3 separate regions of the Homo sapiens genome follow, and regions 1 and 2 are each reported to be linked to region 3. The links are microRNA targets in miRTarBase. Many come from high-throughput screens and were not tested one by one. Region 3 holds a microRNA gene; each other region holds the end of a gene's coding sequence.
Evidence for each region. Region 3 holds the annotated microRNA hsa-miR-6762-5p (CGGGGCCAUGGAGCAGCCUGUGU, at 1,981-2,003, opposite strand). A microRNA usually pairs through its seed, bases 2 to 8, with sites in the 3' UTR of a target mRNA and lowers its output. Matches are read on the target gene's strand: a 7mer-m8 pairs with bases 2 to 8, a 7mer-A1 pairs with bases 2 to 7 and ends in A, and an 8mer does both.

Region 1 (5,507 bases), not on the chromosome of region 3:
TGGCTCCTGCCAGCACTGATCAGGGCCCGCTGGCTTCAGGTCCAATTCCGGACCCCAGGCTGGCCTCTGAAGGCTCTTGCTGGCCGTGGCTGGCCTGAGGACGCTTCTCCTGGCCAGGAGCCCTCCAAGGGTGCTGGACATGGGTGGGCCTGAATGCTCTTTGCCGAGATGAACTGGACCTGTCAAAGACACCTTCATGCAAATTTAGTGAGTGGAAGAGGCCTCAGGCCTAATTTGTGCCAGTTGGATTAAGGTGTGAGTGCAGTCTGATGGCAAATACGCTCAAATGAGAATCAGCTTAATGTAGCTCAGGCCTGGTTCTGATTAAATTGTTTCTCCTTCAACTGTTTGGAAACAGCGGCTAAAGGTCAATTTATTCCGGTGGTTGGAGGAGCCTCCGCTGTTTACCCGCCCTCCTTAGAGCCGACAGGCCGGAGCTGCTGGAGGAGAAAGCACTCGCCACTGGCCACTGCCCCTCCTCGGGGCCTCTGGCCGGCCTGGAGTGAGGGTTGGTCTGAGTGCCCAGGGCTTTTGCACCAGAGTGGGTTCCGGGAGGGCCACAGGTGCTGGAAAACGATGCTGGCTGCAGGAAGGAACTCAGAAGCTTGATCTTGGGCAGGGTCTTCAGGAGCTGGCCCTGCCCCATGTCCCCGGCCTCCTCCTTCCTCTGAGTCCTGTCCTTTCCCTGCAGAGCAGAGCCTGGGGGCTGGTGGGAGGGGGTTGCACTGACAGCGGACCCCCAACGGCTTCTGACCCTGACCCTGCCCTCTGTGCAGTTTGGCCTCTGGGCCTCATGGCTGGCCTGGCTGGCCATCACCACGCTGGCCTTCCTGAAGGTCTACCACAACTACCGTCAGGAGGACCTGCTGGACAGCCTGATCCACGAGAAGGAGCTGCTGCTGGCCCGGCCGTCCCCACGCACCTCCTTCCAAGAGGAGAAGAGCGCTGTCATTTAGGCACAGTGCAGGCAGGGGGAGCTGGCCCCGACCTCCCTGCTGCGCTCGGGGGCACGGGCCTGCCTGGGGAAGCAGCTGGGGGGCTCTGCCTGGGCCCTGGCCACATGCAGCCCTGCGTGTGTCCCCTCGACGCCACGTGTAGTGAGGTGAGCGCCCCAGTGCCCACCTGTGAGCCTGGCAGTGGACTGGGTGGGTGCCGGCTCCCTGATGAGGATGGTGCAGAGAGACTATGGGTGTGGGGCGGGGGCGGGGGGCACCTCCAGGCCTCGCACAGGGCCCCTTGGCTGTCCCAGTAGGACCTGACTGGCCAGCCTATGTGGAGGGCGTCCAGCTTGTCTCCCCCAACCCTGGCCGGATGCTGTCTCCATGCCAGCTGGCCCAGGGGTGGCCAGATGTCACTTAGCCCTGAACGAATTCTGCATGAATTCTGCCATCCAGGCAGAGGCTGCGTGTGGGGAGGAGCTCACGGCACCTTCCAGCCTCTGGCCCCAGGTTGGCCCCCTCCCCAGCTGAGTCCCCCTCCTGGGTGGGTGCCATAGGCCTGGGAGACCCTGTGGCCGGGCTCAGGGAGGCTTCTGAGGCCTGTGAGTTCACCTCACTGTGTGTGGGTCCTGTCTGTGCTTGGCTGAGGGTCAGGGAAGTGGTAATCTGGGCTCCACAGAATCGGGGGCATCATCTGGTTGGGGATTTCGGGGGCACACGTACCACATAGAGGACTGGGCCAGGAGCCATGGCAGGGGTCTGTGTGTGGGTGAGTATGGGAGGATGTGATTGTGAGTGCCTTTGTGCATGGGAGGGTGTGATTGTGTATATGAGTGCATGAGAGGATGTGACTGAGTGTGCATGTGTGGGTGTGACAGTGCAGGTGTGACTGCATGTGAAGGTGTCACTGAGTGTGCACGAGAGGGTGTGACTGCATGTGAGAGTGTGTGACTGCATGGGAGGATATGAGTGTGCATGAGTGTGCATGTGAGGGTGTGACTGAGTGCATGAGAGTGTGACTGCCTGTGAGTGAATGTGTGACTGCATGTGCGAGTGACTGCCTGGGAGGATGTGATTGTGCATGAGTGTGCATGTGGGTGTGACTGCATGTGAGGGTGTGACTGTTGTGCGTGTGAAGGCTTGATTGTGAGTGTGCCTGGGAGGATGTGAGTGTGAGGGTGTGACTCCCTGTGACATGAGTGTGCATGCATGTGAGTGTGAGGAAGAGTGTGTAGGTGTGAGTGTCTAGGCAGGTGTGTCTGCAGTGTGTGCAGCATGTGCGTAAGTGCATGTGAATGTGCGTGTGTTGCATGTGAGCATGTGCACGCCTGTGCGTGTGAGCATTGTGTGCGTGATGGGAGCCGTGGGTGCTGTGTGGACAGCCCCTCTGCCCCTCCCATGGGCTCCCACGCCCAGCATCCACCTGAGAGAGGAGGGAGCTGCCTTCCCATTCTGCAGAGTCTGTGTGCTGAGGCCCCGCAGAAGCAAGTGGAGGAGCTGGGATGTGAACCTGGGACCCCGGCGTAGGGGGCTGCTTGGCTGTGGACCCTGCCCCTCAGGAAAGCCCAGGGTCCACCTCCAGAGGACTCGTTCTGGGGCGGGGGCGGAGGCGGGGGGCCTCCCCACCCGGGGCTCGATGAGGGGCTGTCCGTTTCTTGGCTCGAGTGCTGCCAAGTGCTCCCTGCTGCTGCGCCCACCTTCCCGGGGAGAGGCGAGCCCCTGGCTCCCTGAGTTCATGACCCACCCTGTCCACCATCAGCAGCTGGCTTGTGTCTCTGGGTGGCTGGGCACCAGCCTCCTGGAGGCCACGTGCCTGGGTCCACATGGAGGGTCCTGGTGGGGGCATCATCCTGGGTCCCGGGAGTGAGGCTGGCAGGTGCCCATCGGGGGTGTCAAGTCCAGGGGGATCGAGGCTCTGGAAGCTCAAGGGGGCTCTGGCCTTGGGGACCAGCTGAGTTTCCAGCTGGCAGCCAGGTCCTCGAGGGAAGGGGTTTGGACAGAATCCGAGGCCCCCTAAGCTGATGGGGTCCCCTGTCTCCCCTTCCAGCCCTGACCCACTGGACATGGGGACTCTTTCCAGTCCGGAGAGCTCCTTGTCTGTGTCCCCAGCAGAAGGTGGGGTGGCTCCTGCCTCACCCTCTGCCCAGCCCTGATCCAGGCCACAGCCATCTAGGGCCCTGAAGGAGGGGCAGGAGGCAGGGGTGGCTTCTGGAACCTGAGGCTTGGCCCCGGTTGGGTCTGTTCTTGGGGGCTGCACTGCTGGATCCCAGGAGCAGGTGTGGAACAGCCCCATGGCCAGGGTGATGGAAATCCTCGGCTGCATGCAGACATAGACCCACCCTGGACTGGGCTGTCTCCGGAGCCCAGACACATCGCCCTGGGAAGGGGCAGCTGGGCCTGCAGTGTGCTGGGCAGGGGCTGGCGGCCCTGGTCGTGGGCTCTCCAGGGTCCCTCAGGGGATTGGGCCTCTCCCCAGGCAGGAAGGTGGGAAGTGCAGGCATGACCCGGGGTTCCTGAGGCTGGTCCACCAAGTTGCTTCTGAGACGCCTTCGCTTCTGTCCTGGCTGGCTGTTAATGATATCCCTGTTCTAATTCCACTCTGGCTAAACTGAAAGTAAAGATCCTTAAGCTTACATGTGTCTATTCCTCAAAATCAAAATAAAAACAAAAGCACCCGAGTCTCCAACAGGGATGAGGAGGAGCGTGTGGGGCTTCTGTCTGCCCTCTCCGCTGTTGGCTGGCCTGGCTCGTGGTTCTAACTGTCTGTAATTTGTGGGTCACACACAGTTTGCTCAGGCTTTGAGCCTTTCGTGTCCGAAGCTTTTAGGAATTAGAAGTTGGCCTTCCCGAGGTTCTGCCTTCCTCTCTGTACATTTTCTAGTGGCTTCGAGTCTCACTGCTTCCCATGCAGCTTCCCCAGGTGGGAGGATCCATTTCGAAGGATCTCTTGGGGGTGTGGTGCCCATCTTTGAGCAATGTTTATTCGAAAACACCTGAGGTCGTAGCGTGGGACCCCGCAAAGCCAGGCACGTCCTTGCGTTGCCTTTGCAGTGGACAGACAGCAGCGGCTGGGGGAGATCGGCCTGTGCGGTGTCCCCCGTCAGAACCGGGGCTGGAGGGGTGTCCCAAGCACACAGGGCTGAGCCTGGGCCTGTGACTGCTCTGAGAGACCCAACCTCTGGGAGCCGCTGCTTCTGCATCCAGAATATGGGGCAGGAACCTGCCCATCCTCCTTCCTGGGGTGGGGTGGGATGGGCTGGGCCTGGGGAGAGATGCTGGAGGGTCCCCGGGGGAGCCCCCACCATGGTCCCTTCTGGGCCACTTCTGGAAACAGCCCCTTTTGTTACCTCCACCCGCAACTCTGGGCTCCCTGGATTCCAAAGCTGGAAGTGACCCTGGAGACCACTTCACCTGTTCCCTGGCACCTGGAGTTGCAGGGACACACCCTGACTGCAGGGCAAAGGGAGCCGGCCGGGCATCCCTCAAGACCCAGGGGCTTGGTCAGCCCCTGCCCGAGTGGACACATCCACTCCCAGGCCTGCAGGAGATGGGGAGGTTCCAGGCGCCCAGGACATCCGCTTTGGCCACTGAGGCCGATTCCTTAGCAAATCGGTTCTGGTTTCTCTCATTTCTATAAAAACACCAAGACTGAAGGAAGCCACGGTGTGTTTTAATAAAACAGTGTCTCCCAGTTAAGTGGTGGGACAAACAGGAACCACCGGGTGGATGGTCGGCCGTGCCCACCCGCCTCAGGCTAACCTCGAGGACGCTGGTCTGATTGTCCCTGTGTCTCTCCTGGGCAGTTCTGCCTGGTGTCTAACCGTGGGCCTCCCTGCTTTGTTCAGCCCTCCCCCCACGTAGGGTCTGGAGAGGCCCCTGGTGTTTGTCATCCACAGGGCTCCCTTCAGCTCTGCAATCCGGCGACAAAGCCACAACCACAGACGGTCTCCGGGACCCACAGGCCCCAGCTGGTGGGTGGTGCTGGCTGGCCCCGGGCTCAGCTGGGTGTGCCTGGCCTGCAGAGCTGGGCACAGATGGCTGTTCTGAAGGTCGGGGGTGTCTGGGCCCCTTGCTGTCCCCTCGGCTTCTACACCTGAAGCCGCCCCTGATGAGGGGTCCTTCCCTGGGGCCTCTCCAGACTCACGGGGCTGGGTAGGGGGGTCAGACCTGGGCTCAGAGGATGGCACCTCACATCAAAGGGACCCACCTTGACAACCAGACCCTTCCCTCCCCGTGGGGTTTCGAGGTCTGGATTCCCCACAAGCCATAATCGCAAAAGGCTGGGTTTGCCTCCTCCGAGCAGCCCCTTGAACACGGGCAGTGTGTCCCCCTCCTCAAGAGGGTGCACACGGTGATGGCCGGGCCAGGCCCTAGCAGCAGCAGGAGTTCCTGCTGGGACGAGGGAGGGGTCTTTGGGTGAGCCTGGGGAGCCTCAACTGTTAGCAGTCGAATCCTCTTTCTAATAAAATCTCACATGGACCCAACACAGGAGACAGGAGGGCTGTGCTGACTAGTGTGGCGGGGCCGCCTGCTGTGCCCCCCATGTCCGATCTCACGCCACGGGGTCCC
Region 2 (5,507 bases), not on the chromosome of region 3:
GATTCTTGTCCCCAGCTATCTTTTGGTCAAATGCAGATATGTAATTTCTAAGAAAGCAGGAGATAGCTCTTTGTGGGTTTAGGGTCTTGTCTGTTAGTGCAGGCACAGTGCCTGGTTGAATCTTCTTGAGGGCAAGTAGCATCATACCAAGACCTCTGATCCCAGCTGCAGACCTTGGCCATTGACTGGCTTTCACCACGGCCTGAGGCCAACCAGTCTCCTCTGTCTCAGGCACAGGCTGTTGGAGCCTTATAGTGGCCTGCCTACTGAAGGCACTGGGAACTGGATGAGGGCAGCCAGCCCCTTCACTGAAGGGCAACGCAAACTTGGCTCCTAGAGATGGGGCAGTGGTTGGAGATAGGGTAGCTGTTGGGGAGGTCCTTATGCCATTTAAAAGAGCACAGACCATCAGACTGCACTTCTCTGCCCTACAGGAAATTTGTATCAGCTACTTGGACTGCTGTCAGCGGGAGCGCAGCCGCCACAGCCGCCACAAGATCCTCAGGTGCCAGCTGGGGACATGGTTGTGCAGCTGGGCTCTGGGGTCCTCTACCCATAGCTCCCTGACTTTTCCCCCTCACCATCCCCCACCGCTGCAGGGAGAACTATCTATTTGTCTGTTCCTGTCCCAAATGCCTGGCAGAGGCTGATGAACCCAATGTGACCTCAGAAGAGGAAGAGGAAGAGGAGGAGGAGGAGGAAGGAGAGCCAGAAGATGCAGAGCTGGGGGATGAGATGACTGATGTGTGATGTTGCCCTGCCCAGAAAGGGCCCTGCCCTAGACCCTGCCAGAAAAGGGGGCTCTTCCCCCAGAGAAGTGGCTTGGAGGGAACTTCCCACTCCCATTGCCTGCTTTCCCCATTCCAGCCCTCTCTGCTAGAGGGTAGGAGAGAGCCTGGATCTCTGGCCCCAACCCCCACCAGACCTCATGCCCTGGACACTGCTGCTGAGTTGGCTCAGACTCTGCACTGGCACTGAGCCTTTCACAACTGGCCTCCCCTTGAGGTTCCTCCACTCTAGGGTTTGAGGGGCTGGAATCAGGGCCAGGGCCTAACAGTGTTTCTTCCCCTCGGCCCCACGGCCCATACTCACCCCTTCACCTGAGGCTTCTCCCCTCTCAACTTGCTGTTGATTTCTTTTGAGGGGTAAAAGAAAGACCGAGTTCATTGAAGCAGAGATGGGAGGTGGTGAGGCGTCCTCACCTCCCCCCACCACAGCTGTGGCTGGTAAGGCAACTGCTTGACCACTGGCCCAGCAAGCAGAGGCGGGCAGGAGGATCTGGGCATCCTGAGCCCCTTCCCTGAGGCTGTCTCCTGGGAATGCTGGACCAGGGGGATTACTTCCCCCACCCACACCCCCATTTGGACATCTGGGGAAGTGGAGATTAACCCCTCCCCCAGACTCGTGCCTTGCCTCTCAGGACCTGGCACAGTGGCTGGCCTTATGGAGTATGGAAAAGGCCTCTGCCTTCCTCAGGAGGGACACATAGTGGGTCATCACCCTTTCTCACACCTGCTTCCCAATGAGCACTCAGCAGCATGGCTGAGACCTGGGGCTTGACAGGCCTGCGCTCCTTAGATTAGGATGCTCTGGTATTCCTGGGGCCAGTTAAAATGGGTCAGTGAGGGGCTCTCCTGGCCTCAATCTCCATCTTTAGGGTCTCCACAGACTAACATTGAAGTCTTCCAGAAACCTCGAGGAGCTGGGCTAGATACTTCGAGAGTAGCCCTGTCTTGTCCCCTCCTACCCCCAGATTAGCACCACCCCTCTCACTCTTGGGTTGGATGCTATGGGAATTACAACCCATCACTCCCAATGCCTCCCTTTCCTGGAGGAGCCTGCTGCATTCTCCTGCTGAGGGATCCCAGAGAGGGCAGGTGCCCACCCCACAGGCCCTTTCCTGGACCATGGAGCCAGGTGAAACCTGTCTGGCCCCTTACCCATTGGGTTCTTACTCCTTCACAACGGTCAGCACTCCTCTCCCAGCCCCCCTGCCCACTGTTCTCAATAAAATGTGAGTGGTGAGAGGCCTCTGCAGGAATGCTTTGTGGCAAGTGGCTGGGCAGGCTGCCCCGGGCGTGCAGCAGGCACAGGTGGGTGCAAAGGAATACCAATTAGACCAGGTAATGGTAGGAGATGGGAGCTCCAGGCTCACCAGCTTGGGCTCACCTCTACTGTTATTTACACCCTGCTATGCAAATGTTCTAATGCCCAAGAGCAAGGGTCCTCTGAGGTCCAGTTTGGGTGGTTTTTAAATTTTGAGACAGGGTCTCACCTTGTCACCCAGGCTGGCATGCAGCAATGCAATCATAGCTCACTACAGCCTTGAACTTCTGGGCCCAAGTGATCCTCCCACCTCCGCCTCCTGAGTAGCTGGGACTATAGGCTCACACCACCACACCCAGCTAATTTTTAATTTTTCTGTAGAGATGGGATCTTGCTATGTTGTTGCCAAGGCTGGTCTTGAATTCTTGGCCTCAACTGATCCTCCCACCTCGGCCTCCCAAAGTGCTGGGATTACAGGCATGGGCCACCATGCCTAGCCCTGAGGTCCAGTTTGGACCCCCAGTTCCAGGCTCTAAGATGAGTCTTCTCCTGAGGGGCTGAACTCTGGCTTCCCAGGGCTTCCTTGGCTCCTAGCAGGAAGCTGTGCTGGGATCTAAGACTAGCAGTCTGAGCACTGGTCCCAAATGACCTAGGCCAGTCACTGTCCTCTGTGGGTGTTTCCTTTCCTCAGAACGACAGTATGGGACGATACGAGTGAGTTTGAAGGTCCTGCCCACCCGTGTGCTCTTATTCTAGGACACAGTTGCAACCCTGATGAGAAGCTTTATTGCTAAAAAGTCAGTGAGGGTTTATTGAGTCCCCAAACACCAGCTCTTTAAACCACTCCAACAACTGCTGTGAAGGTCACTGTGCAGAGACCCTGGGTAGGGGAGGCTGGAGCCAGGTGAGTGTGACAGGTCACAGATGGCTCTCAGGCCACCTGCCTTCAGCTCCTTTTGTTTCGGGTTCTAGCCAGAAGCCCTGGGGCCTGTCTCTTGCCTCTTCTTGTAGCATGAGACACCCTTGGGGGCCCTGGGGAAGGGAAGGCCAGTGGTGTGGCTTCCCTTTCAGCCTAGCAACGCCCAAACCCTTTTCCTCTACCTGGCTCCACTTGTCCCCAGATGCTATCTCCAAATTCCAAGTAGCAAAATTCCTGGGTTTCCCCTTCCCAGCTCAGAGTCACTTATGGCTGGAATGTGGGACAAACTCTTCTACCAGAAGGTCCAGGGCGGTTGCAGCAGCTCAAAGGTGGGGATGCTGGTGACATTGACTGGGATGGAAATGATGGCCCATGGCAGCCCATGCTGTTCCAGAGAGCGGCGGATCATGTAGCTGGGAGGGCATGAAGAGAGGTGGTGACGGTCACTTTCTTGGTACCCCATCATGCCCCACTGTCCCCATCAATCTGGGAGTTCCAAAGCCCGAGATCTTTTTTTGCCCTCTAACTGAAGCACCCCAAGTTGAGGCCTGCAAGAAGGGACTGGTGATTACCCCTGACCCAGTCATGGCGCCCAGCCTGGTGCTGATAAAGCCAGAGGCAAGGAGCCCTCACCCGTCTCGGCCGAGCAGGAAGAGGGCGGGGATGTCAGCTGTGCGCTGGGTACTGTCCTGGATCATCTCCACGTAGAAGCTGTCATTGTCAACTGCGTTGTCAGAGATGATCACCGCCCGCCCGCCGTGCTCCTGGACCACCCGAGTCTTGGAGAGGAAGGAGCAGCCCCTGGAAGAGGTGGTGATAAGACCAAAGGAAAGACAGGTCCTAGCTCCCCCTTCCCCAGACCATCACCCTGGGAGTATAGAAGGCAGACTATGAAGAATCTGTTATAAAGGCTCATAAGTAAATAGCTAAAAGCATGGATAATTTAAATACATTTCTTTTTCCTTTTTCTTTTTTTTTGGAGACTGGGTTTTGCTCTGTTGCCCAGGCTGGAGTGCAGTGACGTGATCTCGGCTCACTGCAGCCTTAACATGCGGTCAAGCAATCCTCTCACCTCAGCCTCGAGTAGCTGGGACCACAGGTGTGCACCACCATGCCCAGCTAATTTTTGTATTTTTTGTACAGACAGGGTTTCTCCATGTTGCCCAGGCTAGACATTTCTTAAAGACGCTTAAAAAGATGAAATTTTCAAAAACAGCTCTTTCAAAGCACTACTACCAATAATCTCAGAATCTGCCGTATGCCTGCCCACTCCTCGTGTCCTGCCTGCCCACTCCTTACCCCCTCTCCACCAGAGCAATCTGGTCCTGGATGAAGAAACCGTTGCTGAGTTCCCCGCAGGCCTCTGGAGGTTCAGCGGGGACAAGGTGAATCTGCTCATACCTTGTGTGCTGAAAAACATTTAACATTTGGACAGGTGAGAGTGTAATGAGACACACCTGCTTTAGGACTGGGCTGACAATCCCATCTTATTGGCACCTTATAAAGTGTGAAGGAAACATGGAGTGGTTTCTGTATCGCCAGACACTTAAACATTTTTACTTAATTCTCGCAAAGGCCTATCTGGTTGTCCTACACCACCCTACCCTTCTATGAGATAGGCAGGGGACTTGGTTGTAGATCCAGAGAGAGGAAGTGATGTGCCTTAAGTCACATAGTTCACAGGTAGAGCTGGCAGAGGAAGCTGGTGCTCTTGGCTTTTCACTTCATGTCCCCTAAAAAGACAACTTGTCCCTCCATGGTGCCTAGGTTTATATTATACTCAGGGGAGTAGCTGGAAGAGCTTCCTTTCTGTGCTGCAGCTCATGGAAGGCAGAGCTGATTCTGCTCCCTTCCCTGTCCCAGCACTCAGGTGGGATGAGAGGGTCACTGCAGCTCAGTGAGGGGAAGGGGGAGGTTGAGGATCAGAGATCAGGGGCCTCCCTTAACTTACAAAGATACCACCAAAGTCCTTGGCAGGTGTGGCTGTGAAGATGTATCGAATGTCCCCAGGACTCAGCACTTGAAAGTACAAATAATCATGGATACGGAAGCCTGAAGGATAAAGAGTACAGGTAAGAAGCCTCCCAGGAACAAGCTGGTTCAGGTTCAGATCCCAGACCCTGTGTCTTCAGCTGGGCTGGCTATAGTCTGGGCTCAGGGTCCTGGCTTCAGCCAACGGGGTCCACTAGTGGCAGGGTTGGGGGCTAGATGGCCTCTGTCCTGGGGAGGATAGAGTTGATGCAGAGTCATTAACCCCAGAGGCTTATATCAGCTGCTGCTGCTGCTTACGCAGTAAGCCAGGAAAACTGAGAGCTCCAGGGTTAGTATTTTTGCTCTGAAGACCTGGGAGTTTCAGGGTAGAGATGTAGTGGCCTGCGTACAAAGCAATTCTCACTAAAATTTAAAAGTTGACTTTCTGGTCCCACTGCCATCCCCTTAAGTCTAGTCACTATCATCTCTTGTCCTGACAGCTCAGCTTCTTACCTGGCCTCCCTGCCTCCATTCTTGCTCCCCAAGCAACAACCAGAAATCGAAAACATCT
Region 3 (5,507 bases):
AGGGTTCAAGGCTAAGTGAGCCCCGCTCAGGTCCCACACAACCCCAGCAGTGGTCCCGATGGACGGTCTGCATCTCTCTACCAGCCTTCTCCCTCTACTCAGAGGGCCAGAGAGCAGCTCCCTGCCCCTCCCAGGACATAGCTTGGGGGAGGATTCGCAGCGTGGTCGGCCAGGCTCCTACCTGGATCTCCTCCTGGTACATCTTCAGGCTCAGGTCGCTCTTGGTCCTTGATCGCCGTCCCAGAAACACCATGGAATGTTGCTAAGGAAGAGCAGAGGCTGCAGGGCTCGGCTGCAGATATTCAGGTCCCACCCCTGGTGCCACAGTTGGCGTCTCCCACTTCTCTGGCTTTTGCAACTGTGTCACTCAAAATGTTACCAATATCTGAGGGAAGGGATTATGCCACCCACACTGAAACCTGCCTCCCTCCTTCGGACCAGGGCCTGGGCTCCTCACCTGGTATCTCTCCATCTGGGAGAGGGTCTCCAGCAGCCTGGTGACATCCGAGGAGGCCCCCCGTGCCTCCCGGTAGAGCTCCAGGACGGCAACCAGCTCTTCTTTGGAGATTTCCTTCTCAAGGGTGATGCCACCATCAACTGCAGGGATGGAAGGCAGGTGTGGGAAGGGCCCGGGGCTGCAGCTGCCAACCTGGCTGGGTCTCGTACCTCCTTGCCCCCTTCCGCAGGGGGTCTTAAGGTTCTCTCTCTAAACCGACACTGCATTGGTGTCCTGCTCTCCTCGTTGGCCCTCCTTTCCCTTCCCCTCCCTCTGCTGTGATGTCAGGAGCGCAGGTCTAGCTGGCAGCTGTTACAGGGCCAGAGGGTTTCAGGAAGGGGCCTCTAAGCACAGAGAAAATGGTCAGATGGTCTGATAGCACAGAGATCTGAGGATGAGAGGTAACAAGTGTGGGCACAGGGTTTTCTGTTTCTTTTAAGAGACAGGGTCTCACTCCGCTGCCCAGGCTGGAGTGCAGTGGTGTGATCATGGCTCACTGCAGTCTTGACCTCCTGGGCTCAAGAGATCAAGTGCAGACAGTTTTGATGGAGAATTTGGGAAGAAGGGAGGGTCAGCACACAGAAAGCTGTGCAATCTGGGAAGAGTGAGGCAGTCACTAAAGCCAGCACCATCCAGTTGCAGCAGGAATACGATTCGCCTGTGCCATAAGCAATATTTACACCATTTAAATCAAGAACCGTAGTGTGAACCTATTATTGAGAAACGTGGAGATGACTAACAGAAGAAATAGCCAAGAAGGAGAAGCCTCTGGAGGACGGGAGGGAAAGGCAGGGCAGGGGCTGCTGCTGCCACATAAGCCTTTCTCTACTTCTTGATTTTTCTCCAACTATGACATGCTCTGTCTTATTTTAAAGTTAGATTACGTTTTCTGACATTAAATATTTGAAAATCAATGCAAATACAAGATCTAGAAAGACAAGCCAGATAGATAAGCTGGACAGCCAGACAGCAGAAAAATGACAGCCTGATGGCTGGCTGGACAGCCACCCAGACAGACAGACAGAGCTGGGTAGGCGGCAGATATCAAATGCCCAAGGCATCATCCCTGCACAGACCTTCCGAGTCCTGGTTCTTGCGGCTGTAGTTCATTCGGAAGACGAAGGCCTCGAGGATAAAGGCGACAATGATCGTCATCACCACCTGGCCAGGGATAGGGAGGGAGGGGCAGAGGCAGGGGAGGAGGGTGGGTAGGTGTCCGTGGCTGCGCAGCCCACGCCCAACAGAGTCCGGCCAGATGGGACCCAGCCCCACTCCCTGACGCTGCAGGCTGAAGAGCAGGGGCAGCTGGTGATGTGGAAGACGAAGGACAAAGAGCGTTCTGTGGTCCGGGACCTACCATGGTCACAATGTAAAAGGTCATGAAGTAGAGGCGGCTCCAGTGGGAGGTCTGAGAGGTGACGCCTTCCTGGAGACCAAGGGAAGCAGCCAGTGAGGGGGTGCCCATGCAGGGCAGGTCCCCGTCTACACAGGCTGCTCCATGGCCCCGGCTCTTCGCAGACCCCACCGTGATTTGTGGCTGGTTGTGAGAGATGGAGGAGAGGAAGCTTGCCCCTCTGGGCCTAACACTAATTCCTGACTGCTGAAGGAGCCCTGGCCACTCCCCTGGACGACTGGATCCAGAACCAGGGCAGCCTTTATCCCAGTAGGGCTGGGAGTCGGGAAAGTTTAAGGAATGGAATAAAGAGATCAGCAATGCTCGCCACTTTGTCACTAGAGGGAAAAGTCATCTCTACAGTGGGCGAGACAGGACAGAGACCCAGAGTCTAAGTGGCATCTCCTGGCTGCTGGGGACATGCAGGGAGATGGGAGTAACAGCCGAGTCCAGCCAACACTGGGAGGGGTGGCTCCTGGGGCCCAGCCATCCTGTGGCCTCCCCACTGAACACCAACACAGCATGACTCAAGACCCCCAGCCCTGCAAGCTACGGGAAGAATTATATACTCTGGGTTGGGGGAGACCCAGGGCCGACCCCAGGGCTGGCGGGAAGATACCCCCAGAGCTGCCCGAGCTCTTACCATGATGATGTACCAGTTGTTGACAACTGTGAGCTCAAACAGGGTCACTGCCGAGGGAAGAGAGAAAGAAGCATCCTGATGAGACCCCACTTCAAAGTCAATTTCAAGTGGCCTCTTGCCACCTATCCTGGGTGCCATGTGCTAAGATGAGAGGGTCACCATATGACCGCTTGGGTTGTGAGCTCCAGGAAAGACCAGGCAAGGCACTCCTAGGGCGCTGGCTCCACAGGACATCATGGCCTGCCCCCAAGAGAACACACCCTCTGCCTCAGCAGCCTGTGCCACATCAGACTATCTGGATCTTACTGGGTGCAGATCTGGGGTGTCATGGGGGCACACCCTTTTTCTGGAGAGGCGGTTTGGCTGTGTTCGCCTCTTCATGGGAGTGGGCAGAGGGCTGTGTGCAGTCTGAGCCAGGGGGCAGTGCAGCTGCAGCAGCAGTGGTGTGGCTGGGTCCCATTCTGCAAGTGGCACTGTGATGAGGGGACCCCGCCCAGCTAAGGCTTGCAACTCTTGTCCTCCCCGGTACTGAGAAAATATCAGGAAAGAGTGGAATCAGGCAACTGAGTGAGCTCCAGGATCCAGCCTGGACTGTACTGCCAAAGCTGGGCAGACCAAGTCCTCCACCTGGGCCAGGGAGGCTTCCAGAAAGTGTGGCCCAGACACTTGCTACACCACCTCTGGGACCCGTGGTGACAAGGGTGACAAGGGTGGGGTCCCCAGGGAATGTGCCCCCTGTGATTTTTCCCACTCACCAAAGCTGTTGAGGATGTTGTCAAAATTATTGAGATAATAGTAGCCTTCCTCCACCACGGTCCTGTTGCCCACGGTGTGGTTGCGCCAGCGGTAGGCATCTGCCACTGTACTCGTGCTGGCCGGAGCACAAGGGAGAAAGGAGGGAGGGTCACAAGGCGATCAGTCACCTCCAGAGAGGACAGAAGTCTGAAACAAACCGAGTTCTGGCCAAGGATCCTTCTGTTCTGCCCGCAGCCTGGTTTCCTGCCTAACCCTCTCCACCTCATGCCTGGGTCCCTGCTGAAGGAATGCCCTTGGCTATTCCTGCCTGCTGGGCTTGGCGGGATCCCCTGGCCAGCCTGACCCACCTCTGTCACCTGGAAGTTGTCTGCTGCAGGCAGGGCCTTCTCTCTCACCGTTGCTTGCAGGGGAGGGAGGAGAGGCAAGGGCCTCCTCTGCACCTGCCCCATCTAGGATCTGCTCTTGAGGCTGGACACTAGGCCACAGTCCCAGGGAAGGAATTCCCTACTGGGGCTTCCCCAATACTTGGCCTGAGCAAGTATTTGAAAAGGTTGGCCCTGTTTTGAGGAGCTCTTATTTGCCACTTTCCTTCCAATCTTTTATGGCTGTTCTGTTAATATCCATGCTAATGTTTATAAAAGTCTAGTGCTTGGGCCACCAGGGAGCCTCCTCCCACACGCATGCATCAGACACAAGAGTGAGGTCTGGAGCTTGCACTAAGCTCCCTGGTGACTGCAATGGGCTCTAAAGTCTGGGACCCACTGCTATAGGCTTCTGGTTCCAGACCAAGCTTGACACTCAAACTGGGTCTCAAAGCTACCAGTGTCTTTGTAAAACTGTTTCTTCATCGGTGCTTGAGGCTGTAAAGACCAAATGTAAGAGGACTCTCTGAATTGAGGATGAATGAATGGCAGTGTGCAGTGATTTCACTGTGGCGGCTCAGGAGAAAGGGAGTGCTCATGGGAGATTTCACTCTCTGCTCCCCATCCCTGAGCACCATGACCTTCCTGCACGTGTCCGTCTGTCTTATCCTACGATGCTGTCCCTAGAAGACTGGTCTTGGCCCAGGTCCCCAGCCACTCCAGGAGAGAAGTGGGAGGAAGCCATGGGACTTGACCTTGGGACCCAGGCTACTGTGGGGGTGGCCTCCAGCCCTCGGCAGAGGGTGAGCTGACAGCTCCCAACCCTGCCTGGGGGATGGAGAAACAGGGACCCCGAGTCCAGGCCCCTCATTTAGCTCACTGCACTCAACTAAGCCCTGAAAGCAAAGCAAGGTGGTTGCTTAGACAGGAACATCCCCGAGGACCCCAAGGCCACAAGGACACCAATCCTGGCCCTGGCCAGCCCTCTGCCCGGGAAATGCAGGCTGCCTGGGGCTGGGTGGGGCCTACTCACTTGCAGCAGTTGGGGAAGACGATCCCGCAGAAGAACTCCATGCCCACGATGGCGAAGGAGTAGTAAAAGATGAGCAGGGTGAGGCCCAGGCTGTGGGGCGACAGGGGCAGGGTGACGCGGGGCCGGCAGGAGGGAACGGCTCCTCTGCAGCCCCGGCCTCCTCGGACCCGTGGGGCTGACTGCAGGGCCATGCCCCTGGTCGGTTCACCAACTGGAAAGTGCCTGCGGGGAAGGGGCCTCGTGGGGCAGCTCTGGGGTGAAAAACAGCTCAAGTCAGGACGCTATGAACAAATGCCCCTTTCCCAGAGATTCACCCCTTACCTGTGAAGGTAGACTCACAGGTGACCCCTTACCTGTGAATGTAGACACAGGTGGTAAGCGAGTTGACAGCTCCCTGCCCTCCCTACTAAATATGTCAGACAGGTCAGTGGAGAAAAATGGTGCCCAGGAGACCTGTGGTGGTCAAGATTCCAGGCTCCTTGGAGCCCCGTCAGGCCCTCGATTGCAGTCCTTTGTGGAACTCCTTTCCCCCGACTGCCACTCGGCTCCCGCCCCCACGGGGCACTGCCACACGGCACCTGGACCTGCAGGCCAGGGTGGGGGCTGGCAGTACCTGGCCATCCGGGGCAGCAGCTCGAACATGGTGTCCAGCACGTTGCGGTAGCGCTCCTTCAACTTAAACAACCTGAGCGAGGAGGACACCCGTCACCTCCACACACAGGTGCACGCCTCAGCCCCCGCCCTCAGAACATGCCGGCCCCGCCTTCCACACGCCATGCGGTGAAGACAGGTGAGGGCCTCTCCTCCACCTGCGTCCACTCCCT

Region 1: the mRNA of TMEM179 is a reported target of hsa-miR-6762-5p. Seed matches in the 3' UTR shown: 7mer-m8 at 979-985, 8mer at 1,440-1,447, 7mer-m8 at 1,451-1,457 and 7mer-m8 at 3,162-3,168.
Region 2: miRTarBase lists SMYD5 as a target of hsa-miR-6762-5p. Seed matches in the 3' UTR shown: 8mer at 905-912, 7mer-A1 at 1,072-1,078 and 7mer-m8 at 1,930-1,936.

The regions. Positions count from the first base shown.
Region 1 is chr14:104,588,928-104,594,434 of GRCh38, reverse strand. It overlaps TMEM179 (transmembrane protein 179), which reads left to right. Exons shown (of 4, transcript NM_001286389.2): 4 at 777-3,571. The coding sequence ends at 956. C14orf180 (chromosome 14 open reading frame 180) reads right to left here. Exons shown (of 5, transcript NM_001008404.3): 5 at 3,920-5,507. Among named protein-coding and RNA genes, the nearest start is that of C14orf180, 12 kb to the right of the region's middle.
Region 2 is chr2:73,225,197-73,230,703 of GRCh38, forward strand. SMYD5 (SMYD family member 5) reads left to right here. Exons shown (of 13, transcript NM_006062.3): 12 at 435-505; 13 at 600-2,025. The coding sequence ends at 750. PRADC1 (protease associated domain containing 1) reads right to left here. Exons shown (of 5, transcript NM_032319.3): 2 at 4,917-5,017; 3 at 4,265-4,374; 4 at 3,599-3,766; 5 at 2,814-3,378. The coding sequence ends at 3,258. Among named protein-coding and RNA genes, the nearest start is that of PRADC1, 5.3 kb to the right of the region's middle.
Region 3 is chr12:113,288,024-113,293,530 of GRCh38, reverse strand. It overlaps MIR6762 (microRNA 6762), which reads right to left and starts at 2,008; the gene lies at 1,923-2,008. TPCN1 (two pore segment channel 1) reads right to left here. Exons shown (of 28, transcript NM_017901.6): 20 at 5,297-5,368; 21 at 4,684-4,773; 22 at 3,288-3,403; 23 at 2,533-2,579; 24 at 1,854-1,922; 25 at 1,573-1,657; 26 at 458-597; 27 at 182-262.